Regions from separate parts of the Homo sapiens genome. Here all the other regions are linked to region 1. The links come from fine-mapping of genetic effects on gene expression. A gene starts in region 1. Each other region holds a variant in brackets. All regions are shown on one strand. Distances are between the middles of the regions. Region 1 holds the start of EBF4 (EBF family member 4). Region 2 overlaps EBF4 (EBF family member 4). Region 3 overlaps EBF4 (EBF family member 4).

Region 1 (9,913 bases):
AGTGGCATTCTCTGCAGGCGTGCACCACGCTTCCTCTGTCATCACCACCCCTGTAGCTCTCTGTGGCCACAGTTGGAGCACTTCGCCCCACCCCACCCACCAAATTCCTTTCTCATGGAGAAGATGCAGCAGTTGGAACGGGACAATATACAAAGGAACTAAGATAAATAATGCATGGCCGGCACAGTGGCTCACACCTATAATCCCAGCACTTTGGGAGGCCAAGGCATGAGGATCACTTGAGGCCAAGAGTTCGAGACCAGCCTGGGCAACATAGCAAGACCTCTGTCTCAAAAAAAAAAAATATATATTAGCCAGGCATGGTGGTGCACACCTGCAATCCCAGCTACTTGAGAGGCTAAGGAGGGAGGACTTGAGCCCAGGAGTTTGAGGATGCAGTGAGCTATTATCGCGCGACTGCACTCCAGCCTGGGTGACAGGGTGAGACCCTGACTCTAAAAAAATAAATAAATAAAAGGTTAAAAAATAAGATAACTAATGCAAAATAAAAGCGCACAGAGGGTTCCAAGAAACAACAGACTTTCACCTGGATCTAAAGCAGAGACACTCACCTCTGACCCCCAAGTGCTGCCCCAGAACTGCTCATTGACCTTCCTCCCTTCATCACCCCTTGGTTCAGCAGCTCTAACCCAGGAGCCCTTCTCTGGGGCTGCAGGCTCTGGGAAGCCTCAAACACCATCCTGGCTGGTTTTCTGTTCCATGTGGTTAGGATAGAACAGAAACCCACGCAAGTTGGGAGTCTGCCCCAGCTATGACTGAGCCTTAACTCAGTGCCACTTTCCTGGGCTGACTGATTCCACCTTCTGCGCAGGTTAATTCTGAGCATCTATCCCCCAATCTATCTTGGGGACAACCTTCCAGAATGAAAAGCACTCCAACCAAATCACTTCAACCATCACAAAAAGGAATGCTGCAAAGTGAGGGCATTCCGGCAGGAAGGGCCAGCCAGCATGAAGGCTGGAGCTGGGAGACAGGGAGCTGGGTTTGGGAAACGGTGTGATCTCCCATGCTGGATAAGCAAGAAACTCACACAGCAAGGGAGTGGAGGTAAGGCTGGCCGGCAAGAGAAATTGGATAGGGCATCAAAGGGCCTAGAATGTTCCCAAACTAAGGGCCTAAATGTTTATTTGAGAAGCCACAAAAGACATTTAAGTTTCTAAGCAGGCGATGGCCCAATCCAAGCAACACTTTTTAAAACTGTGGCAGGAGGATGGGGGTGTTTGGGGGTGAGCAGCTGGGGACGGGAGCTAAGGGAGGAGGCTGTGGGCAGAACTGGGAATTCCATATCTGCTCCAAGCCAGGGTGGAGTCCAGTGGAGGAAAAGTACGTTTTGCTGTTAGATATTCTCTGTGGGCACTGGGGTAGGGAGGAAAGGGAAGGGGGACCCGTTAAGACCAAACAAACAGGTAGCTGCAGGACAGGGAGAGAAAAGTATTGGAGATGATTCCCAAACTCCAAGCCTGGTGGGCAGCAGGAGGAGGTGCCCAGCACAGACACAGGGGAGTCAGGAAGAAGAGCTGGCTGGTGGAGAGTGAACCTGTGGAGACCAAGAAGCCCCATCCCAGCCTAGGGACAGAGCCTCTTGGGATAGGGACCCTCCCCGGAGGCAGGTGCTCCTCTCCTCTCTGAGGGCCAAGCCCAGCCCTGTCCTCACCCACTGATGTTCAGGACTGACAGAAGTGAGAGTCCCATATGGGGAGACCATTTCCTCAAAGATGTTCTCTGAGACTGTGGAGGAACGTGAATTCTGTGAGGGGAGAACAGAAGAAGAGCGCCAGGCACAGCAGCTTGAGGTGCTCAGAGGGCAGAGGAGAAAGACAGTGTGCTCTGGTCATCAGGGCAGTTTCCCAGGTGTGTGTAAATATATATACACCAGATATATATATTTCCCAGGTGTGTGTAAATACATACACATGCATATATATATGTGTATATATATATATATATATATATCTGGTCACCAGGGTGGTTTCCCGTGTGTGTGGGGTTGGGGGGTGGGGTAGCCCACTGCTGCCAGGAGGTCCCAGGCCCTGAAGCCCAAGAGAGACCACGGAGTCTGAGAGCAGAAGCAGGAAGGCAGGGCTGGAAGGGAGCCAGCACACAAGGGCCCCAGGAGTGGCTTGCTGGGGGCCAGTCAGGCATCCTTGGCAGAGCGTTCCTGTGAACGGTCTCAGACACAGGAGGGGCAGAAATTGAAGAAGGAGGCGAGGAGGAGGGGACAGTTCTTTTAAGAATGGGGAGATCTGAGCAGAGAAAAGAACATATTGAGACACAAACAGGAGATCGGTGGGGTAATCTCAGGAAAGGCAGAAGACAGGACTAAGCAAAAAGGTTCCACATCCATCTCCACAGTGGAAGACCGAGAGAAGAGAACGGGTGAAAAGACAGAAACGAGGAGGAGCATACGCCGCTGATGGTGCCAGCAGGGTTCTGCCAAGATTCCCTGAGTCCTCTCCACTGGGTAAGAGGAAGGGTGTCTGCTGGAAATGAGAGAGCCAGAGGTGGGTCTGAATGTTGGGGAGAGGAGTGGAGCAAGTGTGGAACAGCTCTGGGGGGGCTTCTCACATGTAATGTGTGTACAGGTCTTGGTAAATTGCAGGTTCCGATTCAGCAGGTCCCGGCAGGGCCTAAGAGTCTGGATTCCTCACCAGCTCCCAGGTGATGTCAATGCTGCTGGTCCGGGGACCACACTGTGAGAAGCAAGATTTAGAGAGGCAGATCAGGAGATGGAGAAAGAGACTGGCTTAAGAATTGTCTTAAGGAGAAACCCATGTTTGATAATCCCACCTAGGGTAAAAGCTGAGACCTGAAGGAGTCCTGGTGGGAATGGCAGCCCCCTGTGGGTGATGGGGAGAGGCATAGAGAGAAGGGGTGGTAAAGAGACCAGGAAAGGAGGTGAGAGGGCCTCTGTGATGGCAGGAGAACCAGCAGTGCCCCCAGGACGCCTCATCTGGGCCAATGTGTGACAGAACGCTAACTCACACTTGGAGGCCCCCCAGAAGAGGATGGGAGTGAGTTGGAGCAGGAAGGTGTTATTGCAGGGGTGTCTGAGCGTGAACATGGCAGGCAGGGCAGGTGGCCCCCATGCTGTTCTGCAGGAAAGTGCTGGACTCAGTCTGGGCTTGCTCGAAGCCTGGCCAGGACAACGTGGGGAGAGGGGCAGAAATGTCTCTGCCCCACGGTCAAGGGCCAGACGACTTCTGTGCCAGGAACTAATAAAAAAAAAGGAATGGGATCTGAGACGGGACGCGGCTGGGGAGAAACAGGAGGTGAGCTGGGCTCTGAGCCTACCTGTCCAACTCGCAATCAGAAATCAGGAGGTTCCTGAAAGGCACAGATGGAAACTGAAAATGCTTTAGGCTTAGGTAACCCAGCATCAGGAATCGGGATGGTTGGATGCAGGGACCTCGCCCAGCTTGTCTGGGGCCGCAGCCTACGGCAGGGACGTTTCAGTCCTTAGCTGGGGTGAAAGTGAGGTCAGGGTCGCCGGGGAAATGCGGGAGTACAGTCACGCGGGAGAAAGACGTCAAGAGCGAAAGCTCGGAGGCGTCAAAATGAGCAGCAAGTCCAGGCACAAGGCGTCGGGCGCGGAGAGTACGGCGGGTGCCGGGGGAGGGAGATGAGGCCGCGAAGACGCCGGGGCTTCGTCCGGCGGCGACGGGGAGGCCGCGGAGGTTCCCGAGCGCAGCGGGGCGCGCACCTCCCGCTCGGGCCGGGCTCCCTCGCCGCGCGGCCCCGGATCCTCCCTGCGCGGGTTTCCGTGGCCCCCGCCGGGCTCTTCCGTTCCCTCCCGCGGCCTCGACCAGGCCGCAGCCCCCAGCCCAGGCGACCGACTCGCCAGGGTCCGCCCCGCCGCCGCGGCCCGGGCCCGGCCGCTCCTCCCCCGATGATGTCACGTCCCCGGCCGCCCCTCGGCCGGCCGCGCCGCCCCGCCCCCGCCTCCCCCGGGCCCCCGTCCCCTGGGCCCGCCCGCTCCCGACATCCCTCCTCCCGCCTGCGCTCCCTCCCTTCGGCTACCGCTCCCCCGGGAGCGGCGGCGGCGGCGGCGGCGGCGGCGGGATGGCCCGGGCCCGAGGCCAGGCCCCGGGGAGCGGCGGGCGGCGGCGGCCGCGGCGGGGCGGCGCGGGAACCGGGCCCCGGGGGGAGTCGGCCGGGCTGCTGCTGCTGCTGCTCCAGGTGCTGCCGCCCGGGGCTACGGCAGGGCCGGGACGCCGGGGCACGCGGGGCGCTGGCGCTGGCGGCGGCGGCGTCTGCTGGCCCGGCGCGGCCCCAGCCTTTCCCCGGGACGCGCGGCTGCTGCTGCTCCTGCCGCCGCTGCCGCCACTGTCGCCGCCGCCGCCGAGCTCCGCGCCCGCAGCCTCCGCCTCCCGGATGGTAATCAGCGCCCCGCGCTGGCGCCGCGGGCGGGCGGGCGGGCGGGAGGTGGGGGCGGCGAGGGGGAAAGGGCGGGCGGCCCCGCGCCCCCGCCTTGCCCGAGGCAGCTCCCGGGGCGCTCGGGCCCCCCCTCCGACGACCGCGGCCCCGGGCAGCCGCCAGAGCGCGCCTCTGGGGCGCCTCCGCGCGGACCGGGTGCGGGCTCCGCTCCCCGCCCTCCCCGCCCCGCTCGCAGTCCGCCCGCCAGCGCTCAGGCCGCGGGGGAATCCCTCCATCTCCCCGCCCAGCGCCCCAGGAGGGGAGGGGACAGCGCCGGCGCCCGCGGACCCGCTTTCTCCGAGGGAGCGCCCAAGAGGCGAGCGCGCACTGAGCCACCCGGACTCGGCGCTGCGCTGCTGGAGGCGCCTGGTGCCGTCGGGTCGGGCTGAGCTAGACGCCCGCAGCCTCAGCGGGACCGGATCCGGGGCGGCGGGGGCGCTCACTCACCGCGCGCCCTCATGTTCCCTGCGCAGGACGCTCTGCCCCGCAGCGGGCTGAACCTGAAGGAGGAGCCGCTGCTGCCCGCCGGCCTGGGCTCAGTGCGCTCCTGGATGCAGGGCGCGGGCATCCTGGACGCCAGCACCGCGGCGCAGAGGTAAGCGCTCGGACCGGACCCGGTGCGCTCGGGTTGGACGGCTGCGCGCCGCCTCAGCTCAGCTTGCTGGAGCTGCTGGAGCCAGGGGCGGAAGGAGCCCTAACTCTGGACGGTCCCGGCGAGCTCCCCGGCCCACCCCGTCCGGAGTGCCTGTGCTGCCTCCTGAGGCTGTGGGGCGGGCTGGGGCGGGGCTTCTGCCTCCACTCCGGGCTGCCCCGGTAGATTTCTGACGGCCGCTCGCGGGTGCGGCGGTGAACGCCACCCCAGCCGGGCTGTCTATGGCTCTGAGAGAAGAGGCAGAGCTCCCAGCCATGACCCACAGCCACCGGCCGTCTAGGAACGTCCAGCCCCTCCTTCCTGGGCAGTCCCAGTGACTCTCCTTGTCCAATTCCGCAGCTCTCTGTCAGGAAAGGCACGAAACCCAGCCCCCTTTTTCCTTTCCCACGCCCCTCAGAGTTGGCGGATGGGGGTGTGCAGAGCCAGAGAAGCGGCTGGGGGCTGGACGGTGGCGAAGAGATGAGGTGGGCAGTCGGCCTGGCTGGACTGATTGGCCTGGGAACTGGGCAGGGCCCCTGCCTTTCCCTCGGGTGTTTTTCTGGTAGGTCCTTTGGAAGGCAGAGAGTCCCTGGGAACCCAGCACCCGCGCCGGTCTCCTCTGACTCCTTTGCAGGGGTCTGGGAGTCTCAGTAGGGGGTTGACTCCAGGATTTGAAAGCGAACTTTAAAAGTTTATTGACCTGCCCCCAAAGCCCCTGCACCCCCTGGCTTTTTGCACCTTCAGCTGTGACCATGGAGGGAGGCATTTAGGTATCCTATGGGGAGTCACAGTGGTTAGGATTAGGGAGGTGCCAGCTCTGCTGACAGCTGGGACAGGGTGGGCACTTGGCTTCCCAGAAGTCTGAGCTGTTGCAGCAGCCCGAAGGGATTCTGAATGGGGGGCTTAATGCAGACCGGGCCTGACACAGGAGCCCACATTCACACTCCGCAGGACGCCTCAACCTCACCGTGTAACAGACACACACCGCGCTTCATGTGCAAACTGAAGCCGTTTCTGCACGCCGGTCCTTTCCTGGCTGTCGGGAGGGAACGCTGGGGGGCTCTGGAGCTGATCTCTTACGGAAGAGAAAGGGTCTTGTGGATGAATTAATTTCCAAAACTTTTACAAGGGATATAGCTATATTCTAGAAAAATTGGAAAATAAAAAATTTAGTCCCTCCTCTGTAATACAACTACTGTCAACATTTTAGTGTATTTCCTTCCTATTTTTCTTCCCATTAACTTGTGTTTTCCTGTGCTATGCTTACAATTCCACCTCCTGCCTATTCTTCTGTTGGTTCTGGCTTTTTTTTTTTTCAACTTGAGAAGGTTAGTTTCTTAACATGGCCCCCTCTTTGGCCCCACCACCTGCTGTGTGGCGAGAGCTCTTTGTAAGAGTGGGTGAGGAGTGCTGATGGGGGCCTCTGGGAGTTAAGGTTCCATTTCTCTGCAACCTTTCCCTCTGTGCCTACCCAGAGGCAGGTCTGATGAAGGGGAAGCAGACGTGAAGGAGGCAGTGCCCTTGGAGACTGCGTGGGGTTCAAGAAGTGTGGGGATAAGGCTTCCCCCAGAGCATGGGCCACAGCAGTGGTGTCTGCGCATAGTGGGGTTGAGTGGGCTTGGGGTGTCCAGTCTGACTCCCCACATTGTGAGGGCCACATTGCTGGGATGCAGAGGGCTTCCGCAATGTGAACAGGGGCTTTCTTCAGGCTCGGTCTGCTAATCCCCAAGTGTGGAGACTTCTCTGTCTCAGGACATAGACTAGGAGCCCCCACTCGCTTTGTTGTTCAGCTGACTTTCCTCCCTGTCCCAGAGGGAGCTGCCTCATCCTTCCTCCCCACTCTTCCCCGTGTTGTCTGTCATCACTACAGTTGTATCTGGTTCCTCAGTCAGTCCTCTGCACGGGTCTTCTCATCCCAAAACAGCAACAATGAAAATTCCTCCCCCTGGCCCTGCCTCCGCCTTCATCACGGCCTGGTTTCTCTCCCTCTCATCTCTGAGAAACTTTCACGGAAGTGCTCTCCCAAAAGACTCCCTGGGATCCGAGAGTTGGCTTTGACACCTTCCTCAGCCTCACCCCACAGTTGCCTGATTGTCAAGGCTTAGGAATGTTCTTTTCCGTGTCCTAGTCCCAATCTCAGTGCCCTCAGCCACCACTTTTAGCAATGAAACCCCCTGGCCCTCCACCCGCTTCCTCCCTGGCTTGAAGGTTAACTGCACCCTGGTTACCACCTCAGCCTCCTGGCCCAGTGCCTAGCCCCAGCCATTCACCACTCCCCTAAAACCATCTTCCCTGCATTGGGGACCAAAGCAGTATTTCCAAAGTACTTTTTTAAGATCATGTCTCTCTCCGATTACAAATAAAGTGACCAGGCTGGGCGCGGTGGCTCACGCCTGTAATTCCAGCACTTTGGGAGGCCAAGGTGGGCGTTTCACTTGAGGCCAGGAGTTCGAGACCAGCCTAGCCAACATGGTGAAACCCTGTCTCTACTAATAATACAAAAATTAGCTGGGCGTGGTGAAGCATGCTTGTAGTGCCAGCTACTTGGGAGGCTGAGGTGGGAGGATTGCTTGAGCCCGGGAGGCAGAGGCTTCGGTGAGCCAAGATCGCACCACTGTACTCCAGCCTGGGCGGCAGAGTGAAACTGTGCCTCAAAAATAAATAAGTAAATAAATAAAATAAAATAAAATAAAGTGACCAACCCCCAAGCCCCACTGCTTCCTCATGGATATCTCCAACATTCAAGGCCTATCATGGTCTGACTCCAGCCTTCCTCCCCAGCCTCCTCTGCATGATGCTTGGCAGGCAGTGGATACTTGGAGAATTAGCTGCGCCTCCAGTAAGTGCTATGGTCTATTGAAACAATCCCTCTGCCCTCAGCACCCGCACATCCCCTGGATTAAGTCTCACCAGCCTCAGGACTCCCTCTTACACCCACCGACCCCAGCAACTGCTCTTTCTGTGCCCTCCCACCCTGCCCACGGGAGTGGCTTTAATGCTGCCTACGAATGCTTACCATAGGCCAGCATCTGCTCTCCTCTGCCTGTCCCGGTCCTCCTTGCCCTGCCAGCTGGGGCCTTCCCCTAAGGCAAGGGTAGCGGTCCGTTCATCCTTGTGTCCACAGCACCCAGGGCAGGCTCAGGCAGTCCATGGGGGATGGGGGTGATGACTGTCTGCCGGAGGAAGCAGTAATGTTTCTCAGAGGCTCCCAAGTCCCCTTATATTGGTTCCCCTCTTGACTTTGGAAGACTCCAGGTTCTACCTGACCCAGGAATCAGCTACTGGAGCAGCTTCTCCTGCCCAGTTCTACAGCTTGACTTTTACAACAATGCCAAGATTTTACAGAAGGTGGGTGGGGAGGAAAAGGCCCAGAAGGCCTGCTAAGATCAGCGAGGGAGGCTCTGCCAACAGGAAGGAAAGTTCTGAGCAAAAGAGGGGTAGGGAGGGCCGGGTGCGATGGCTCACGCCTGTAATCCCAGCACTTTGGGAGGCCGAGGCAGGCAGATCACGAGGTCAGGAGATCGAGACCATCCTGGCTAACACGGTGAAACCCCGTCTCTACTAAAAATACAAAAAATTAGCCGGGCGTGGTGGCGGGCGCCTGTAGTCCCAGCTACTCAGGAGGCTGAGGCAGGAGAATGGCGTGAACCCGGGAGGCGGAGCTTGCAGTGAGCCGAGATCGCGCCACTGCACTCCAGCCTGGGTGACAGAGCGAGACTCTGTCTCAAAAAAAAAAAGAAAGAAAGAAAAAGGGGGTAGGGAGAGCAGAGGGGCTGCATACCCTTAAACTGGAGGCAATGGGGATGGGAACGCTGGTGGAGAGGGCTGCCCTCTCCCTACCAATGTCTTCCTACCAGGGAAGTCTGCACAAGGACCCCCTGCCCCTGCCCTGAGCCAACAGGACGTTATCTCTGAGATCCATTTGCCCAGCCCCAGCCCATCTTCCCCTGACTCCCCTGAAGACTCAAGTCCTCCTGCTGGCACACTCAGCACAGAAGTAGCTCTCTTCTCCTTCTGATGTGCTTCCCAGTCTGGGGAGACCTCTGGAAGGCCCAGGCCAGACCTCCCCCTGGAGCTGATCCCTGCACACTAGCAGGGCCCCGGAGAGGGAGGCCAGCTGGGGCTGCCTTTCCTGTAAGCAGCTGCAGGCTAGCATCCCTGCTAGGAAATGCTTTTGTTTGCTTTAATAATTCATAGCCGATTCTCAGCCTGGGACCTGGCAGGCAGGCCTGTGGGTGGGTGGCGAGAGGGTGGGCAGAGAGCAGTGGAGTGGGGAGTCTTTAGGTAGAATTGAGGGCCAAAAGAAGAGGGGGAGAGCAGGCCTGTGAGATTCTTCCCCCTCCCTTTCCCCTGCCCTCAGGGACTTTGGTCACTGTGCCAATTTCCTGGGGCAGGTGAGCAGGGCAGCTGCTGGGGGCAGTGGGAAGAGGGGATAGGGACCCTCCCCAGACCCAAACCTCATCTCCAGCAGGACCAACTGGACACAGGCTCTGGGCAGCTGCCTGCAGCCACCAGGTCCTCCCTGTGCAAGCATTGTTGAGGTGGGTGTGCCCCACTGGGCTACTGCTTTTATCTTCCCCAGTCTGCACCATGGCCAGGGGCTGGCATGTCAGGGGCTGGGCAGGGCCAGGCCAATAGATCTTGTCTGGGGCAGGAGGGCCAGGCCCAGCTTGATCATCATCAGCAGTCCCGGGGTCCAGAGGGTGCCTGCAGGGGAGAGCAGGGGCCAATGGGATGCTTGGAGGAAGGGGGGATGTAGAGGAAAGGGACTGGTGGAGCCCTGTCAGGATGGGGCTAAGAAGAGCTGGACTTAGCAGAGAGAGACTTTGGGGAAATCTGCGAAAAGGG
Region 2 (9,913 bases), 51 kb after region 1:
GGCACCACTGATCGAGTGAGCCGTCTGCCCCGTGGTGGAGCTGTTAGTCCCTTTGCATGGAGGGCCCTGCCTCCTACTTCTCGGTGAGATCCTCCAAGACCCATCACCCAAGACCAAATTGGAGCTCTAGGAAGCATTCCGCCTCCCCTAGGCAAAATAAGTGGCCACTGCAGATTACACTTGGCACATCCTCCTGCCGTGCCCACCACTCTGTCTTCCTGAGTTTCTCTTTCCTGTTGGGTTGTAATTTCCTTAAGATTTTATACAATGCCGCAGTGCCTAACACATAGAAGGTATTTAATAAATCTTTTTAAGTGGGTGTATGGAATGAATGAGGGGATGAATGGCCCAGCCCTCTGTGTCCTCCTCTGTCCCTGAGCTGAGGGTAGAGAGAAGCAGACAGTGAACACGCTGGAGAGCCAGAAACTGCTTCAGTTTCTTCGGAGGCTCATGGGAGCCCAAGACAAATCTTTTAGGATAAAAATTAGCGGAGATCCCTGTCCCCTTATTTCCCCATCTCAGGCTGCAGTGCCAGCTTTGGGCTTGGAAACACATATCCAATTTAATCTACCCTTCACTCTTAACCTGCTGTCTTTCCCAAGGCCTTCACAGGACACACTGTTGTTTGGAACATCCTGCCCCAGCTCGTATATCCATTCACTGCATACCTTCTTTCTAGATCTGCACTGTCCAATATGGTAGTCTCGAGCCACATGTGACTATTTAGATTTATGTTCATTAAAATGGCTGGGCGCAGTGGCCCACGCCTGTAATTCCAGCACTTTGGGAGGCCAAGGCGGGTGGATCACCAGAGGTCAGGAGTTCATGACCAGCCTGACCAATATGGTGAAACGCTGTCTCTACTAAAAATACAAAAATTAGCTGGGCATGGTGGCAGTCGCCTTTAGTCCCAGCTACTCAGGAGGCTGAGGCGGGAGAATCGCTTGAACCCAGGAGGTGGAGGTTGCAGTGAGCCGAGATCACGCCACTGCACTCCAGCCTGGGCAACAGAGCGAGACTCCGTTTCAAAAAAAAAATAGATTTATGTTAATTAAAATGAAATAAAATTCAGTTCCTCAGTTGCACTAGCCACATTTCCAGTGCTTAGTAGCCATGCGTGGCTAATGCATATCATTCTGGAAAAAGTTCCCTTAGGGAGCACTGTAATCTAGACACGTTCTTCCTTGCCCCTGACAGACCTGTAGTGGAAAATGCACTCGGGCTCTCCTTCCAGCTCTTTGAGTTACTGACAGCTTTCTCTTTGGAAGTGAGAACATAATTTCAGCCCTAAGTATCTCATGGGGATGCAGGGAAGAAAAAGCTGGTGAAAAGCCTTAGCTCTGTGACCTAAGTTTTCTTAGGGTGGGATTCCTGGAAGCAGAGCCTGAGATGGGGATTCTTGTGAAAGAGGTTTATCAAAGGAGAGCTCTCAGGAGAAAAGGAATGAGTATAGAGGGAGTTTAACAAGGAGGTGGTCTCGGTCGGAGTCTAGCGTCAGCCTATCCCATGCAGAGGTCTGGAGTGTGAATGGCCAGAGAGTTGGTCCTCCTTGTAATGTCAATCTGTCATTGGCTGTGGGCTACTGGTGGGGAGTATATGCTCTTGGCTGAGGGTAATTCTCAGATTACCTTGGGGCAGCTGCGAGCCATTTGACAGTCTACACTGCAGCTGGGGCATGAGGGAATCAGGCAGGCATCAACTCACTGTAAAGTTCCTGGACGTTGTCTTCCAAAAGAAGCTCCAGGCCAGGCATGGTGGCTCATGCCTGTAATCTCAGCATTTTGGGAGGCTGAATCAGAAGGATCGCCTGAGCCCAGGAGTTTGAGACCAGCCTGGGCAACGTACTGAGACCTCCGTCTCTACAAAAAATAAACAAAATTAGCTGAGCATGGTAGTGTGACCTGTAGTCCCACCTGCTCAGGAGGCTGAGGTGAGAGGATCACTTAAGCCTGGGAGGTCAAGGCTGCAGTGAGCCAAGATCACACCACTGCACTCCAGTCTGGGTGACAGAGCGAGACCCTGACTGAAAAAAAAAAGCAGCTCCATCCCACTCTGCCTTCTACCCCCTGAAAACCTAGAATTTAACAGTGGACTCACATCAATTGCCTTCACACTTGCCTTCTCTACTGAGTGTCTCTTTTGAGTAAAGCACTGTGCTTGGGGAGTTAATGCAATGGTGTCACCCCTGAGAAGTAGTGTATAAGTTAAATGTTTGCACTTTAGCCATACTCAACCCAGAGTTTGCTTCTTTGGTAGGAAATACTCCATGGACAAGACGTTTCTTTTCATTTCATCTTGAGCTGTTTTTATGGGGAGGAATAAAAAGCGTTTATAGACATGATTACGAAGGCTAAACCAAGTTCA[G/A]GATGTGGTAAGGTGGGTGTGTGGGTGAACTACTCTGAGCTTTCCTTTAAGTCACAGGCATCAGAGTCATGATGCATAACTACCATCCTTTAGATACTTCATTAGTTGGATGACCACTGTTCACAGCTCTTCTTCTGGTCTTTCATTAAAGTTTTTATTGAGAATGTGGAATACAGGCAGAATGGAATAATGAAGCCCATATAGCCCCAATGAGCTAGAACAATTTTTAACTATTGGTTCCATTGTTTTTTAATACTGAAGATCTTCTCGACTGATAGCAGCAGTCACAACAGCCAAAAGCCCAAAACTAGGAGCAAGAGGACCTGAGTTTGACCTCTGCAACCCTGTTGAATTTGTAACCTCGAGGAAATCCCCACAACATACTATCCTGGTCCCCACACAGCCTGCCTCTCAGAGCTGCTTTTGAAGGCAGGCTTGCCGCTGCAGTACCAGCCTGGGTCGGACTCTGAGAGCCCCACTTAGAAGGACTTCTAGGACTCTTGTCGGCATCAGTGGTTCATAAAGACCCGTTTTCATATCCTTACTTTAGCATTGACTGTGACTTTGTCAAGTCACAGTCAATAGCTTAGCCTTGGTTTTCTCATCCGTAAAGTGGGAATGGTTGCAGACCGACACGACCTGGGGGATTGAGCAAGATAATGCCAAAGTGACAAACTCAGCAGCGTTCTGGGCAGTTGCTAAGGTGCTGAGTGCCTGATGGGTTAGACCTGGTTCCCTGTTTTTCTTTTTTTGTTGTTTGTTTGTTTGTTTTGTTTTTGCATAGTTACCTCCCTAATGCATTTCATTTGTAAGTCATGCTTGTATTTATGGTGTTTTCTTCCAGTAATCCTAATGGAAGCTTCTGCGACTTGGCCTTTCCCTTACTCCCTTTTCTGTGGGGTCTGGATTAGGAAGCCATGCCCTCCAAGAGCCTCATGGCCACAGTGGGATGGCACTGGGCACTGGTCCTGCAGTGGTCACCCTCCATGGGGATCCTCAGGTCAGAGAGGGCTGTGGACTTGGGCTCACTTTACTCCTCCCCACTCCCTGCCCCCTGCCCCCATCCTGGTCAGGAAAAACGGGCTTTCCTAGACTCCTTTTCAGCCCCATAGGGCCAGGAGTGGGGAGGGGTGCTCAGAGAACACCCCCAGGCTCATCCAAGCTTTAGAGGTGGGGGGTGGTTCCATGCTGACAAGCAGGGCTTCAAGCCCCTCAACAAAGTGCACATCCCTTCCTGCCTCAAGTCCCTACAGGGTGTCCCAGGCCCAGAACCTTGTCCTCACTTACCCAGCCCCTTCCCAGGCTCTCTTCTTTCAAGGGGAACACCTGCCCGCAGTTCCCATGTCCACATGTGTTCCATGTGTGTGTCTCCCTCCAACTCCCCTGCCCACCAGGTCTCTCACTCTCCCCCAGTCCCCAGCCCCCACATCTGGCCTCTGTGCAGACATGGCTTGGAGGACCTGCTGCCCCTCCTTCTTCTTCCCTGACTCCATTCTCATCCTTCCCTGACTGCTCAGGTGGAATAAAGTGTCACCCCCTGGGCGTCAGCCAAGGGAGAATTCTCCTGGGTTGTTCTCACGTTCGCCCTTCCAGCCTCTGCGGTGTGTCTGTCTCCCCCTGGTGGGCAAGGAGAGGACCAGGCAGCGGCACCCGGAGGGTCGGCAGTCTCTCTAGGTCCAGGGGAGAGCCCGGGCACTGCTCCTGGTTCTAGACCCCAACGGAAGTCCTCTAATTCCAGGTCCAGCCTTGGAAGGCAGGAGCCTTTAGGGGCGGGTCACCTTTGCCAAAGCACAGTCTTCAAAATGTCAAAAGCGTGATTCTCATACAAATTGCTACTGAGCATGTATCAAAGTTTTCTATAACTTATTGATGAGGGAACCAATGGGATGACAAAGCTGATTCAAAGAAGACGAAGAGAAAGTGATACATGTGCGAGTGTGTGAGTGCGTGCGTATATGGAAAGGGGTTGAGGGGAGGGAGGGAGAGGCAAGGGATTGTGTGGAAAATACTGGAATAAGATGGCCAAATTAGATATAAAGCTAGTTAATGTCCATAGGACAATTTTATCATCTTTAGGGCTAATTTCTCCACCAAACAGAAATTATTTACTTCTCCTGACAAATATCATTTGTTTCCAAGTCATATGAATTTGGGGGCGGGGAGTATAAATTCACAGGGTACAAGTGAAAGTATACAATGTGTGGTGATCCAATCCAGATATTTAGGGTGTCCATCACACAGGTACAATACATTTTGGCTAAGTATAGTCACCCCACTCTGCTATCAAACATCAAGTTTATTCCTTCTATCTTGCTATTTGTACCCTATAACCCACTTCTCTTCTCCCTGCCCCCCAACTCACCCTTCCCAGTCTTTATTATCTGTCTTTCCATGCTCTACCTCCAGGTCATCAAAGTTTTTATTTATTTTTTTTATTTTTTTTTTTTTGAGACGAAGTCTCACTCTTGTCCCCCAGGCTGGAGTGCAATGGCGTGATCTCAGCTCACTGCAACCTCCGCCTCCCGGGTTCAAGTGATTCTCCTGCCTCAGCCTCCCGAGTAGCTGGGATTACAGGCGCCTGCCACCACGCCCGGCTAATTTTTATATCAGGTCATCAAAATTTTTAGCTCCCACTGACAAATATCATTTGTATCTTATCAGTTTTCTACAAATTAGCACTTAACTTTATAGTCTGTGCTCCAATCAATCAATAGTAAATGCGAGTCACTTTCCCCTAGAGACATACACTCCAGTGAAGCATTGTCCGATATTAATATAATGCAAGCAAGCCACATATGTATGTAAATATGCTTTTTTCTTTTCTTTTTTCTTTTTTTCTTTTCTTTTTTTTTTTTTTTTTGAGACAGGGTCTCACTCTGTCACCCAGGCTGGAGTGTAGTGGCTCAACCTTGGCTCACTGCAACCTCCACCTCCCCCGTTCAAGCAATTCTCGTGCCTCAGCCACCTGAGTAGCTGGGACTACAGGCATGCACCACCTCACCCAGCTAATTTCTATATTTTTAATAGAGATGGAGTTTCGCAGCATTGGGCAGGCTAGTCTCAAACTCCTGGCCTCAAGCGATCCACCCACCTCAGCCTCCCAAAATGCTGGGATTACAGGCACGAGCCACTGAGCAAGGCCTCAAGTCACATATGTAATGTTAAATTTTCCAGTAGCCACAAGAAACTGATACAACTAATTATCATAATGCATTTTATTTAACCCAATATATCTAAAAGATGAGCATTCCCACATGAAATCAACATAAAAGATTACTGATGAATTATTTTATATTCTTTTTTTCTAAGTCTTGGAAATCTGATGTGTGTTTTACACTTACAGCACATCTCAAGTTCGGACTAGCCACACTGCAAGGGTTCATGCCGCGTGGGGCTGGTGGCTATAGTAATGGGTAGCGCAGCTCCAGTGCGGTAGTTCTCAAACTTCAGGGTGAACCAGCATCACCTGGAGGGCGTATGAATGCAGAGATGTGATTCTGACTCAGCAGGTCTGAGGGGAGGCCTGAGATTCTACACTTGTAGCAAGGTCTCAGGTGACGCTGACGCTGCTGGTCTTAGGGGGTGGTGCAGGCTCTCTGACTGGGAGAAGCCTCGTGGACTACCAGCTGGAAGGGAGTGAGGTTTCAGCCACACCATGGATGGTTTCGACTATGTGCTAGCTCTGAGGACAGGCCCAAAGGGAAGGGAGAAGGGGACTGACCCTCAGCCCCCACTGCAGGCCATGGTCTTGTGCAGCTGCTTTTACTCACCCACACTCTGCAGGTAATGCTAGCCAGGCTCAAACACTGAGGTGTCCCCATAGACAGAGGTGCTGGCAGGTCCCTAGGGCTCTCAGAAAGGGGTGGTCCTTGAAACCTAGAGTGGCCAGAAAATGGTGGCTGTACAGGGCGTGAGAATTGGTGTGGACCCAAAGGACAAATGAAACCTGTACTGTAAAGGGACAGTGGCAAGACCTGCTGAGCAAAGGCTTGGGGAAGGGCCAGTGAGGGAGCAGGAAACCACAGCCTTGGGGAGGGCAGAAGTAAAGGATGTCCCAGAGGCAGGACTAGAAGGTGTCACGGCAGCCGTCAATCGCTACTCTCCCTTCATGGGTGTGGAAGGATTTACCTACCCCGGGTCATGCAGAGAGTCCAGGCCTGGCCAGAGCCCCTATCTTGGCCCCTTCCCAAGGACCCTTCCTCTTGATCCTGTAGGTTTGAGTGGAGTGGGGTGCAGTGGGCACATGTGTCATCTTTTGGTGCAGTCCTATGCTTGTCGCATCTTCAGTGGTATCCAAAGGTGAGCCTTCAATCCCTTTAGGACAGAGACCATGCCCCATCCTGGTGTTTTTCCCTCCATCTAGCACCTGCCAAAGGACCGAGCACACGAGTACTTAATTTAAATGAGCTGGTCTGCCTGTGTGTGTGAGTAGGGAGTCTATACTCTGTCACATGTGAATGTGGGGCATGGATGAGGAACATGTCGCACATGTGGGTGTAGTGTGTTTACACCATGGGGTGTCATAAGGGGTGTAGGGAGTGATTAGTAACTAATAAGAGAGAAATGGAGTGCGCCCACTGTGCAGGTGTACCTCTCAGGAGCACTGAAGGTGTCTGCACCTTGGGGTGACCCATAGGGATATATATGGCATCTACACATTGGTGACTACTGTTTGGGGGCATAACAGCTGTCTGCACTGCAGGGTATCCTGCAGGGGTAAATGGATTGTCTACACTGTAGGGGTGCACCATTTGGGAAATATAGGGGGTGCCCACTGTGGGGGAACATGACAAGTGCTGAGAATGTAGACAGAGGCAGGACCCCAGGGAGAGGTATCTCTAGGAAGGTGACTGCCACCAGCTCCCAAGGAGGGGCTGCCTGCTGGGGACACCTCAGTTCCAGGGCTGGTGCTTACTCCTCCCAGCACTTGGTGACCTCCTTTTTGGGGACTGGGCTTTCAGGACCTGTAACAAATTTTCCTCTGAACAGAAATTTAATGTTTGCAGACTTTGGAGGCAACTCTGGTGAATTAAATGAACATTCAAATTTGGGGTATATAAGTAGTACATGAGTAACTATACCGTGGTTAAAGTTCCACCCCAGGTTTGGGACTCTTGTATTTGCTTTAGTAAATAGTATGGTAAAAATATCTCCCAATTGGGTGGAGGTAAAATGAGGAAGCTGACTGACTGGAGAAACTCATACAGTGGCCCAGGAGGCTGTTCCACATATCAGGACCTACTGCAGACGTTAGCCCTGCACTCTACAGTTTGTAAAGGGTATCTTCCCAGATGCTCACAGAGTGCTATAAGGCATAAGGCAGACACTGATCATATTCCGAGTTTACCAAGAGTTAAACAGGGCTGGGTGCAGTGGCTCATGCCTGTAATCCCAACACTTTGGGAGGCCGAGGTGGGTGAATCACCTGAGGTCAGGAATCGAGACCAGCCTGGCCAACATGGCAAAACACCGTCTCTACTAAAACTACAAAAAGTAGCCAGGCGTGGTGGCAGGCCCCTGTGATCCCCCTGTAATCCCCTGTAACTCGGGAAGCCAAGGGCTGAGGCAGGGACAATTGCTTGAACCCAGGAGGTGGAGGTTGCAGTGAGACATGGCGAGCCTGGGCAACAGAGCAAGACTCTGTCTCAAAACAAAAAACAAAACAAACAAAAAAAAAAAAACAGGAAAAAAAAGAGTACAACAGCCAGAATGTTGTCCATGGCTACCTTACTGGTAGGTGACAGGACCAAGGACCCACCCTCCCAGCCAACTGCCAGGAAGGAGAGGAGGACAAAGTGCTCATGTGTTTGTCTAAAAAGCAACCTCATCAGCGCATATGTGTTTTTTTCCCAATAACTCTATGTAAAAAAGAAGACATTCACGGTGTCTCTGTACCACATGTCTGACAGATACACCATGTGTATATGGTGGGTATGTGCTCTGTATGATTAAGCTTTTCCTATGTGTATAATGGATATAAAATGTGTGGGAGGAGGATATGCCATGTGGGAGGTGAATTTGCTGGGGGCATCTGCTATATGGGATGGCTTTACAGTATTTGCAATAACTATATTTTGGGTAATCATTTACAACATAAAATGCGTATTAATGTATTTGTTCTGTGTATTTCCTATTTCTCTGTGCATATACTGTGTAGGGTGGGCATACACCGTGCATGATGGGTACAGGCTCTGTGTCTGCTTAGTATGCCATATGTGTGGGATGAGTGCAGGCTATATGTGGAGTACATGTTGTTTATGCTTGTGTGAAGGTTATACCCCGAGTGTGTGTGATGGCTGTATTTTGTGAGTAATAGTATCCAAGGCATAAACAGTGTCTACAAAGAATGTGCTGTGTCTGAGGAGTGTACATGGTGTGGGTGATGGGTATACTCTGGGGAGGGATGTGTTGTATAACAGATGTGCTATATGGGTGATGAGCATATACTGTGACGTATACACAGTGTGTGATAACATTACATGGGGTATGTGTGCGTACACGCCACATACGGAGCATATATTGTATGTGTGATGGGTATACAGTGCGTTGGGTATAATGAGTAATAAGTATAGGTAGTGTATATAATGGACTTACTCTTCATGGTGAATATATACTGTGTGGGAGTGCTAAGTATACACTTTGTGGCATAAATAAGCCCTGTGTGATCAGCACACGGTGTGTATGGTTGTATAGCGAAGTTGTCATTGTGATGGGTCTGTCTGGTGTGTATCAGGCACCCTGGTATATGGAGGCCATGATGGGAATATGGGATGTGTGCCTGAGTGGGAGCAGGCAGAGGGGACTCATCCTGTGGGGAGGGGGCATGGCAGGGAGCAGTTGGATCTTCATCTGTTTCCAGAACCCCCAGACCCTTGAGCCCACCGACCACACTGTTTCAGGTTCTTCCTCAAGTTCTTCCTCAAATGCAACCAGAACTGCCTGAAGAATGCGGGGAATCCCAGAGACATGCGCCGCTTCCAGGTGGGTCTGGAGAGAGGGTTTCCCCTTGCAACCCCACCCTTTCCTGATGGAGGGGAGGGGAGGGGGAAGGGAAGGCTGTGACCCTGCCACCCTGGGAAAGGCCTCCAAGGCAGATCTCTGCCCAGCCCTGTGCCTCCCCAGCCTGGTTGGTGCCTGCTGGGGGTGGGGCAGCTCCTTCTCAACTTGTGCTGGCTGCCAAGGGAGGCTTCATTAGAGTCCCACTTAAGAAGATGCTAATTGTGACATTTTTACATGATTAACGACCCAGGCAATTTGCATAGCGTGAAGCGGAGAGCAGCTGCCCTTAGCACATCCCCAAGCTGCACACCCCTCTCAGTGCAGGGCGGGGGAAGAAGGCAGCCCCAGTTTTCTCCCCAGAATAGGGCAGGGGCTCCTGCTGCTGAGTTCTCCGGCTGATGCTGCCCACCTCCACTTGCCTAAGACCCCATTCCTGGCTTGGAGGTCCGTGGATACAACCCAGCATTCTGTGTATGCAAAAACAGTAGCCATTCTTTGCCTAAGGAGCCAGTTTTTTCAGGGGTCTTTATTTTTGTAGCGCCTGGGGAGT
Region 3 (9,913 bases), 37 kb after region 1:
GAAATATCAATCACATCATATTCCAAGTTCCCAAATGTAATTGTATGTTTTTCTGGACTTTTCATTCAATTTTATTATTCCATCTGTTTTTCATGGGGAAATATGATGCTGTGGCCAGGCAAAGTGGCTCATGCCTGTAATCCCAGCACTTTGGGAGGGCAAGGCAGGAGGTGAGGTGTAGTACCAGCTACCTGAGAGGCTGAGGCAGGAGAATCCTGACTTGAAGTCAGGAGTTTGAGAACAGCCAGGGCAACATGGTGAGACCATGTCTCTACAAAAATGTTTTTTAATTAGCCAGGGGTGATGGTGTACTCCTGTAGCCTCAGCTTCTCAAGAGGCTGAGTTGGAGGATCACTCGAACCCAGGAGTTCAAGGTTACCGTGAGCTATGATTGTACCACTACACTCTAGCCTAGGTGAGAAAGAAAGACCCTGTCTCAAAAAAAAAAAGAAATATGATGCTGTTTCAATTTTTGAAGATTTAAACGTGTTTTAATAACTGGTAGATCTAGTCCTTTTCCCCCATTACTCTTATATTTTAGAATTTTCCCAAATATTCTTGATTATTTGTTACACAAACTTTACAATTAGATTATCTAGATCACCAAAACATAACTTCTTGGTGTCATTTTTTTAGGTTGTGGTAAAAAACACATAACGTAAAATTTTCCATCTTCACATTCATGAGAGTATGGTTCGGTAGTGTTATATTCAAATTGTTGTGCAACAGATCTCCAGAACTTTTTCATCTTGCAAACCCGAAACTCTATATTTATTAAGCAGCTCCCCATCTCCCTCTCCCCCCAGCCCGTAGTAGCTGCCATCCTACCCTCTGTTTCTATGAATTTGACTACTTTAGACTCCTCACATAAGTGGACTCACATAGCATTTATCTTTTTGCGACTGGCTTATTTTACTTGGCATACTGTCCTCAAGGTTCATTCATGTAACATGTGACAGGATTGCCTTCCTTTTTAAGGCTTAATAATATTCCATTATATGTATATACCACCTTTTATTATATATTATATGTTTATAACATGTATATATATTTTATTATATACATACATCGCATTGTATGTATATACTACATTTATCCATCAATGAACCCTTCAGTTGCTTCTATCTCTTGGCTATGAACATGGGTGTGCAGATATCTCTCTGAGATCTTACTCCTTTCCATTTTTTTGGATATACAGTCATCCCTCAGTATATGCAGGGATTGGCCAGGTTCCCCATCCTGCCCACACATGTACCAAAAGCTGTGAATACTCAAGTGCCACAGTTGTCCCTGCAGAAATGCATATATGAAAAGTCATCCCTCTGATAAGCAGGTTTTGCATCCTTTGAATACTGTATTTTTTAATCTGCATTTGGTTAAAATAAATCCACATATAAGTGTACCCAGACAGTTCAAACCTGTGTTTTTCAAGGGTCAGCTGTATACCTAGAAGTGGAATTGCTGAATCAATGGTAGTTCTATTTCTAATTTTTTGAAGAACCACCATACTGTTTTCTATTTAAAAGGTCGCACCATTTAAAAATCCCACCAACAAAGTTTCCAGTTTCCCCACATCCTTGCCAACACTTATCATCTTTTTTATAGTAGTCATCCTAATGGGTGTGAGGTAATATTTGATTATAATTTTGATTTGCATTTCTCTAATGATGTTGAACATCTTTTCATATGCTTCTTGACCATTTGTACATGCTCTTTGGAGAAATGTTCATTGAGATCCGTTGCCTATTTTTAAATTGGATTATTTGGGGGTTTTCTGAGTGTTGAGTGTTAGGAGTTCCTTCTATATTCTAGATAGTAACCCCTCCTCAGATATATGACTTGCAAATATTTTATCCCATTCTACAGGTTGCCTTTTCACCCTATTAATTGTGTCACTTTTATTGAAATCATGTTTAACTCAGATTAACCTGGAGGAAATGGAATATTTATGATACCAAGTCTTTAAAGTGCTTTGAAAATGTAATTCATTTATTGTATAAGTTGCACTAAGAAGGGTGCAAACAAAAGCAGCTTTACCATTTCTAACAACTGCCCTATAAACCTGCTCGGTGAGATCATTTCTCTCCATCCCTGGATGAAATAATGGACTATTCCTTCATCTTTTTTCCACCACTCTCATGAAATAAAAATCCTCTGATCACTTAGGTAAGAAAATGTCCAGAGGAGTGTAACAAACTCCAGAGATTGTCTGATTCTAAAGCATCTCGTCATCCTGGCTTGGTCCTGCCTTGGGTTTAGTGGTGAGGATGGGTTTGGTAAAAGGGTCTTCTCCCTTTCTTCATTCACCTTCACCCCTACTTATTACCTGTAGTCTAGAGTCACCTCCATGGTTGAGGTGGCTGAAGGGAAAAGAGGTTCGGGGGCGGGGGGTTGAAGGGACAAGGTGTTCCTAGGTGACACAGTGGCAATCTGTCATTTGTGCCTCTGGAAATGGTGAATAACCCTGGCTTTCTTTCTGAGCTTTTGTAGATCTCTCAAATCCCCCATCCAGGACCCTCTGATGGCCTTTTGTGATCCCCTCAGCTTCTAGACCTGATTCTTTATCCACAGCAGGATTCCTAACCTGAGGTCTACAAGAATACCTGTGGGTCCATAGGTAGAGTTCTGGGAACTTAGATGGGAAAATTCCATTTTTTTTTTACACAGTTTCCAGTCCTGGAAACCTTTAGCTAATCTTTAGCATTCCTTCAATGGTGGGAATGGGCAACAGATCACCATAGTATTAATACTCTGTGTAATTTTATCACTAGAATGGTTAATTTCCATATCATAGTAGAGCTGTTGCAGATATTTTGAAATCCCATTATACTCACTGCCACTTCAAGATTACTGTAGTTGTTAGAACAGCTACTAGATCTTATTACTTAATAAATTAATAAAGTGTGAATATAACTATATAACCATTTTAAAATGTTTTTTGATAACTTTCAATATAATTGGTTTATTTTATAATTCTATGAATTTATTTTGTACATATGAAAACAATATGCTGAGAATGGGTTCAATGGGTCCATGGCACCAAAAAAAAAAGGTTAAGAACTCCTGACTGAAAGCCTTCGCCGACTCCTATTGAGCGCATTTTCGCAACAGTTCACAGCCAGCCACGCTCAAAGAACCCAAATCTGGCTGATGAAAAACAGGCATGGTCCTTGCCCTAATCAGCTCTGAAACAGCATCCGGTTCTTAAAGCCACCCCCACCAATGTCTGGCCCCGCTTAGCTACTCAGGATGAGCTTGCCTTTCCCCAGCCTCTTGCTGATAAACTTCACAAGTATGAATTTAGTATGGATCTCTCTGCTCTTTGAATTCTAGTGGATGCTTGTCAACTTCTGCAAGCAGTCCTTTTGAAGCTCCCCTACTAGGCCGAAGTGAGACAGACACACCCCACACTTCCTCCCCATTGAGATGGGGGGAGCTACAGCATCTTGAGAGCTCCACCTACCACAGTTCCTATTTTTCACCCTAGAGAGAGATGATGAGCTCAAGGACAGTCTATGACCGGGTAGCATAGGTGGTCCAGCAGCTACATTGTCGTTCTTAACTTTGAGACCTCAGCTGAAACCAAGACAAAAAGAGTCCGTTTTCACATCCTATTACACAAAGAGTAGTAAGTAGAGGTTGTTACTATCTATAGAGATTGTTACCCTCTAGAAGCAGAACCTGAGGTGGGGATTCAATTTCCTCCCTCACAGGGAGTGAAGGAAGCAGGAGGAGGCAGGCAGCAGAGCTGAGTAAGGATGTGCATTGAACTGGAGTCCAACCTCCAGCCTCAGAGCCACTGGAAGCTCTGGAATGTGGATCCCACTCTGTGGCAAGGACACAGTCTTTGGCAGCTCTTTGAGAGCAAGTCAGTCAGAGGCTGCCGGCCAGCCCTATGGTGAGGGAATAACCACCCCTGGCATTTCCAGGTGCCCTGTGGCTGAGGGCACTTTGCAGCTGGGGGATGAATGCACTTGCTTAGTGTATTAGTTTCCTAAGGCTGTCCTAACAAATTACTGCAAGCTTGGTGGTTTAAAACAGATGTTAATTATCTCCCCATTCTGGAGGCCAAGTCTAAAAGCAAGGTGTTGGCAGGTCCGTGCTCCCTCCAAAGGCCCTAGGGGTGAATCTTCCCTTGCCTCTCTTAGCTTCTGGATTCTGTTGGCAGTCCCTGTGGCGGCATCACTCCAATCCCTGCCTTCATCTTCACAGTGCCTCTTCCTCTTCTGTCTAATCTCCCTCTATCCTATTGTTATAAGGACTTCATCACTAAATTTAGGGCCCACTCAGATAATCCAAATTGATTTCATCTCCAGATCCTGCAAAGACCCTTTTTCCAAATAAAGTCAGTTTCACAGGTTCTGGGATGTAGACATAACTTTTGGGGGGGCCACCATTCAACTCACTACCCCCAGTAAAGGGGGTTGGGGTGAGGCAACAATGACGTCCCCTATACAAGTAATCCTTAAGCCACCATATCACTCAAAACAAGCTCTGTGGACTCTGCTGTCCCCTTAACTGCTGGAGAGACTCATGAGCACACATACATGAAGCACTGTTCCCTTTAGGCATGCGAAGCTGGCCTGTCCACCCTCTGCAAAAACAGGACGCGCAGGGCCCTGTCGGCTGTGCAGCAGCTCTGCTGGTAGAAAGCATTCGCTTTCTTCTCCACCAGACTTCTTATATACCATCCTATCAGTCAGTGCTCCAATCATAAAGCCCATCTCATTTCCCTCCTACCAGCCTTGCTGGGTTTTTTGTTTGTTTGTTTGTTTTAGATGGAGTCTCGCTCCATCACCAGGCTGGAGTGCAGTGGCGCAATCTCGGCTCACTGCAACCTCCACCTCCAGGGTTCAAGCAATTCTCCTGCCTCAGCCTCCCGAGTAGCTGGGATTACAGGTATGTGCCACCATGCTTAGCTAATTTGTGTATTTTTAGTAGAGACGGGGTTTCACCATGTTGGTCAGGCTGGTCTCAATCTCGTGACCTCGTGATCCGCCCGCCTCAGCCTCCCAAAGCGCTGGGATTACAGGCATGAGCCACTGTGCCCAGCCCAGCTTTGCTGTTTGATGACACTGTAAGTTAGCATAATGTGCTGTGACAAAGAATCCCCAAATGTGGTGGCTTAAATATTTGTTTAGTTCTCTCAAAACAGTCCAGGGCATCAGTCCAGGGTGGCTCTTCTCCATAAAGTCATCCAGGACCAAGCAGTCTTTTCCTCAGCTCTCCCCTAAGGTGACACCCTCATCTGTATAGCCCAAACAGGCTCAGAGATACCAAAAGGGGATAGAAGAAATAGGGCATGCAGCTTACTTATAAAGACATAACCTAAAGGTCCCACCTTACCTCTGCTCATGCCATTAGCCACACCCTGCTGCAAGGGAGGCTGGGAAAGATAGCGTCTAAATGGGCATCCCTCAACCTAGGTAAGACTCAGAGGGTTCTATCATGAAAAGAAAGGAAGGAAGCTAGATAACGGGGACAGCCAGCATTCTCTGCTGCGGACATCTGTCTGGCCACTTCTACTGTCCTTCTTCCTACGAACAAACCAAGTTTTTCTCTGTCCGTGGGTACCAGATGCCTCTCTCTCTTAAGCAAACCCCTGTAATCTATGGTATTCCTTTTAGAACAGGGAACTGGCACAGAATCCAGGCCTCCATCTGCCTGTGACTTGATGGGCCTTGTGCTTCTGGGATGTGAACGTGAATTCTTAGGAATAGAGCTAAAGCCAGGAGTACCTCACCTTTCACTTGCCACTTCACATTGTGTGTGCAGAGCTTCAACACACAGAATGTGAGTTTCTTTATCAGTTGCATGCTAGGTTGGGCCCCAGTCAAACTTAATAGTTCTATGCATTCTTGCTAGTAGGGTATTGAAGTTGCCAGTTATTATTGTTTGTTCCTTCAATTCTGTTAGTTTTTGCTTCATGCATTTTGGAGCTGTTATTAGATACATGTGCTTTTTTTTTTTTTCTTTTGAGACAGGGTCTCACTCCAGTTGACCAGGCTAGAGTGCAGTGATGCAGTCTCAACTCACTACAGCCTTAGGGCTCACTACAGCCTCAACCTCCCAAGCTCAGCTGATTCTGCCACCTCAGCCCCCTGAGTAGCTGGGACTACAGGTGCATGCCACCACACCCAGTTAATTTTTTGTATTTTTAGTTGAGACGGGGTTTCACCATGTTGCCTGGGCTGGTCTTGAGCTCCTGGATTCAAGCAATCTGCCTGCCTCAGCCTCCCAACATGCGGGGGTTATGGGCATGAGCCACCACACCCGGACTGTTATTAGATACACATGCTTATAATTGTTATTTCTTTCTGATGATAGACACTTTTATCATTATAACATGTCCTTCTTTGTCTCTCATAATTTTTATCTTAGTGTCTATTCATAAATTAGTATAGCCACTCCAGCTATCTTTCAGTTAGGGTTCACATGTTATCTCTTTTTCCATCCCTTTATTTTCAAAGCCTTTTGTACATTTGAATTTAAAGTATGTCTCACATAGACAGCATATAGTTGGATTGTGTTGTAGTTTTCTTTTTTAATCCATTCTGCCAATCTCTTCCTTTTAATGAAGCATTTCATCCATTTATATTTAATGTAATTGCTGATAGAACAGGATTTATGTCTGCCATTGTGCTTTGTGTTTTCTTTTTCTTTTATTTTTTCTTTTTCTTATTTTTTTTTGAGACGGAATTATAAAGAGTTCCCATATATCCCCTATCCCCACAAATGTGCAGTTGTCTTTTAAATTAGATAGGAAAACAAAATCATTACAAACAAAAATACATTTATGCTGTCTTTTATGTTTACCTATGTAGTGACTTTTACCAGTGCTCTTTATCTGTTCATGTTAATTCATATTACTGTCTTGTCTTGTTTCATTTCAGACTGAAGGACTCCCTTTAGTATTTCTTGTAGGACAAACCTGTTAGTGATGAATCCTCTCAGTTTTTGTTTATCTGAAAATGTCTCAATTTCTCCTTCATTTTTGAAGTTGATCATTTTAGAAGTTGATAGTTTTGCTGGACATG[C/G]AATTTTTTGGTCGATAGTTGTTTTCTTTTAACACAATATATCATCTCACTGCCTTCTGTCCTTCATGGTTTCAGAAGTTATGTGGTGATCTTATTAAGGATTCCTTATATATGACGAGTTACTTCTCTCTCTCTCTCATTGCTTCTCAGATCCTTTCTTTTTCTTTGGCTTTCAAAAGTTTGAGTATGATGTGTCTTTGTATAGATCATACACTTTGTGTTCATACTACTTGGAGTTTACTGAGCTTCTTAAGATGTGCTCAATAATGTTTTTCATTACTGAGCACATTTAGGAAATTTAGGGGCATTTTCTTGAATATTTTTCTGTCCTGTTCCATCTCTACTCTCCTTCTCAGATTCCCATTATACATATACTGGTATGCTTGATGGCTCCCACAGGTCTCTTAAGCTCTGTTCATTTTTCTTCATTCTTTTTTCTTTCTGCTTCTGAGCTAGATAATCTCAATTGGCCTATATTCAAGTATACTGATTTTTTTTCGTCCCACCAAATGAGATATGTTGTTGAGTTCCTCTAGGTCAGGGGTGTCCAATCTTTTGGCTTCCGTGGGCCATATTGGAAGAAGACTTGTCTTGAGCCACACATAAAATACATTAATACTAGCGATAGCTGATGAGAAAAAAAAAAAAAAAGCAAAAACATCTCATAATAAGAAAGTTTACAAATTTGCAGGCTAATTCAAAGCCAACCTGGGCTGCATGTGCCCCGTGGGTCGCAGGTTAGAGAAGCTTGTTCCAGGTATTTTTAAATTTTACTTATTGTTCTTTTCTACTTCAGAATTTCATGGGTTTTTAAAAATATAATTTGAAATCCTTTATTGATTTTTTTGGTGTGACTTCATTCTCATACTTTTCTTGAATTTTTTAGACATAGTTTCCTTTAGTTCTATGAACATATTTATAATTGCTCATTTAAAGTCTTTATCTATGCCAGCTGCAGTGGCTCACTCCTATAATCCCAGCATTTTGGTAGGCAGAGAAGGGCAGATTGCTTGAGCCTAGGAGTTTGAGACCAGCCTGGGCAACATGGTGAAACCCTGTCTCTACAAAAACCTACAAAAATTAGCTGGGCATGGTGGCTCATACCTGTAGTCCCAGCTACTTGGGAACTAAGGTGGGAGGATCACTTGAACCTGGGAGGTCAAGGCTTCAGTGAGCCATGATCACACCACTGCACTTCAGCCTGGGCAACAGAGCAAGACCCTGTTCCAAAAATAAATTAATTAATAAAGTATTTGTCTAAAAATTCTAACCTCTGGGCTTCCTCAGGGATAGTTCCTGTTGGCTGCTTTATTACAATGTATGGGTCTTACTTTCCTGTACCTTGCATGTCTCATAATTGTTTGTTGAAAACTGGACATTTTAATCATATAATGTTGCACTCTGGCAATCAGATCCTCCCTCCCAATTTTGTTCTTATTGCTATTGCTGTTTGTTTGTTTAGTGATTTTCTTGGACTAATTATATAAAGTCTATATTTCCTGTCATGTATAATCACTGAAGTTTCTGCTCTTGGCTTAGTTATCAGGCCATGATTGGACAGGCATTTCTTTAAATGCCTTGAATGCCAATAAGTGTTCAACCCATTGCCAAAAGGTTCTGTATGTGTGTTAAGACATGCCTTCAGTGCTCCAGCGATTTACAACTCTGCCTTGACCTTCACTTCCTGCTTGCTCAGGGCCTTGGGATAAACCAGAGGTGAGAGACCAGGGGCTTTCCATGCCTTTTTTGGGCATGTGCCTCTCCCTGCACATATGCATAGCTTTCTAGATCTCCAGGAATATGTCAGAGCTTTTCAGAGCCCCTGTGAACATCTTATTCCCCACTTTTTCCTTTAAAATATTATGGCCAAACTTTTATTTGCCCCCAACTTGTATTGCTGCCTCATGTAGCTGCAATGTTAAGCAATTGCCGCTGGCTGTTTTCAACAAACACCCTGAAGATAGGGTCTTTCCCACTAAGTAAGTTCTGAATCGGGTCAAATAACAAGTTCTGCAAATAAAGCTGTCAGGGAGTTGCTAGAAAGGTTAAAGAGTGAAAACTGACTGGGAATACAGCTTGTTGAGAGGCTCCAAACCCACTCTACCCCTTCCTATGGTTGCTAGCTTGCTAGTTTTCACAACTACAATAGTGGTTGCAAGGTAGCTGGTCTTCAACAGGGCTGGGGAGTAGGGGATGGGAATAGGGCAAATTAAAACACCACAAAGCTTTCTGTTCTTATTACAACTCAGCCATTTTTCTTGCCTCAATGTTCCTTGAGTTGTTGCACACATGTTGTTAATTTTTAGAGTTCTGAGAAAGTTGATTTTGACCATGTTTGCCAGTGTTCTTGTTTCTTTATGGAAGAATGGATTTTCAGAGGTCTTTACTTAGCAATTCCCAAAGTCCTGTCCCTGTAATTGTTATTTCTTACCTGGGCACAAGTTAAAAGTGCCTTGGGGGCTTTAGTCCAGCATTCATCCAGTCACAGTAATTTTTGACTCTTGAATTCTATCATGAATCAATCAGCACCTGTTGTGGGGCTGGGACTATGATGGATGCTTGGGAGAAGAGAGGCTTAAACAATGATCCCTGCCCTCTGAGAGCTTACAGAGCAGTTGAGGAGACAAATATAATTATGTAAACAACAATTTATAATTTTGAAAAAAATTCGTGTACTTGAAGAAAGGTCAGTAGAGATTATCTATAATTACATAATAATAAGAAGAAATAGAAAACAATGTAAGGCTTGAAGACCACACTATCCAATAGTACTTTCTGCAATGATGAAAATATTCTGTACCAACCAATATGGTAGCCAATAGCCACACATATTTATTGGGCACTTGAACTGTAGCTACCGTGACTGAGGAATTGAA

Evidence for each region. PIP is the estimated chance that this variant, and not a neighbour inherited with it, causes the effect.
Region 2: its variant is fine-mapped to the expression of EBF4 in whole blood (TOPMed, PIP above 0.99).
Region 3: its variant is fine-mapped to the expression of EBF4 in whole blood (TOPMed, PIP above 0.99).

What each region holds. Positions count from the first base shown.
Region 1 is chr20:2,688,754-2,698,666 of GRCh38, forward strand. It overlaps EBF4 (EBF family member 4), which reads left to right and starts at 4,027. Exons shown (of 17, transcript NM_001395167.1): 1 at 4,027-5,029. The coding sequence starts at 4,893. LOC105372507 (a long non-coding RNA gene) reads right to left here and starts at 3,867. Exons shown (of 3, transcript XR_937210.3): 1 at 3,313-3,867; 2 at 2,587-2,711. RefSeq lists enhancers at 5,198-6,182, 8,656-9,199.
Region 2 is chr20:2,739,286-2,749,198 of GRCh38, forward strand. EBF4 (EBF family member 4) reads left to right here. Exons shown (of 17, transcript NM_001395167.1): 7 at 9,264-9,345. Among named protein-coding and RNA genes, the nearest start is that of EBF4, 51 kb to the left of the region's middle. RefSeq lists a silencer at 4,011-4,060. The variant G/A (reference allele first, on the strand shown) is at 2,365.
Region 3 is chr20:2,726,143-2,736,055 of GRCh38, forward strand. All of the region lies in intron 6 of EBF4 (EBF family member 4), which reads left to right. Among named protein-coding and RNA genes, the nearest start is that of EBF4, 38 kb to the left of the region's middle. The variant C/G (reference allele first, on the strand shown) is at 7,038.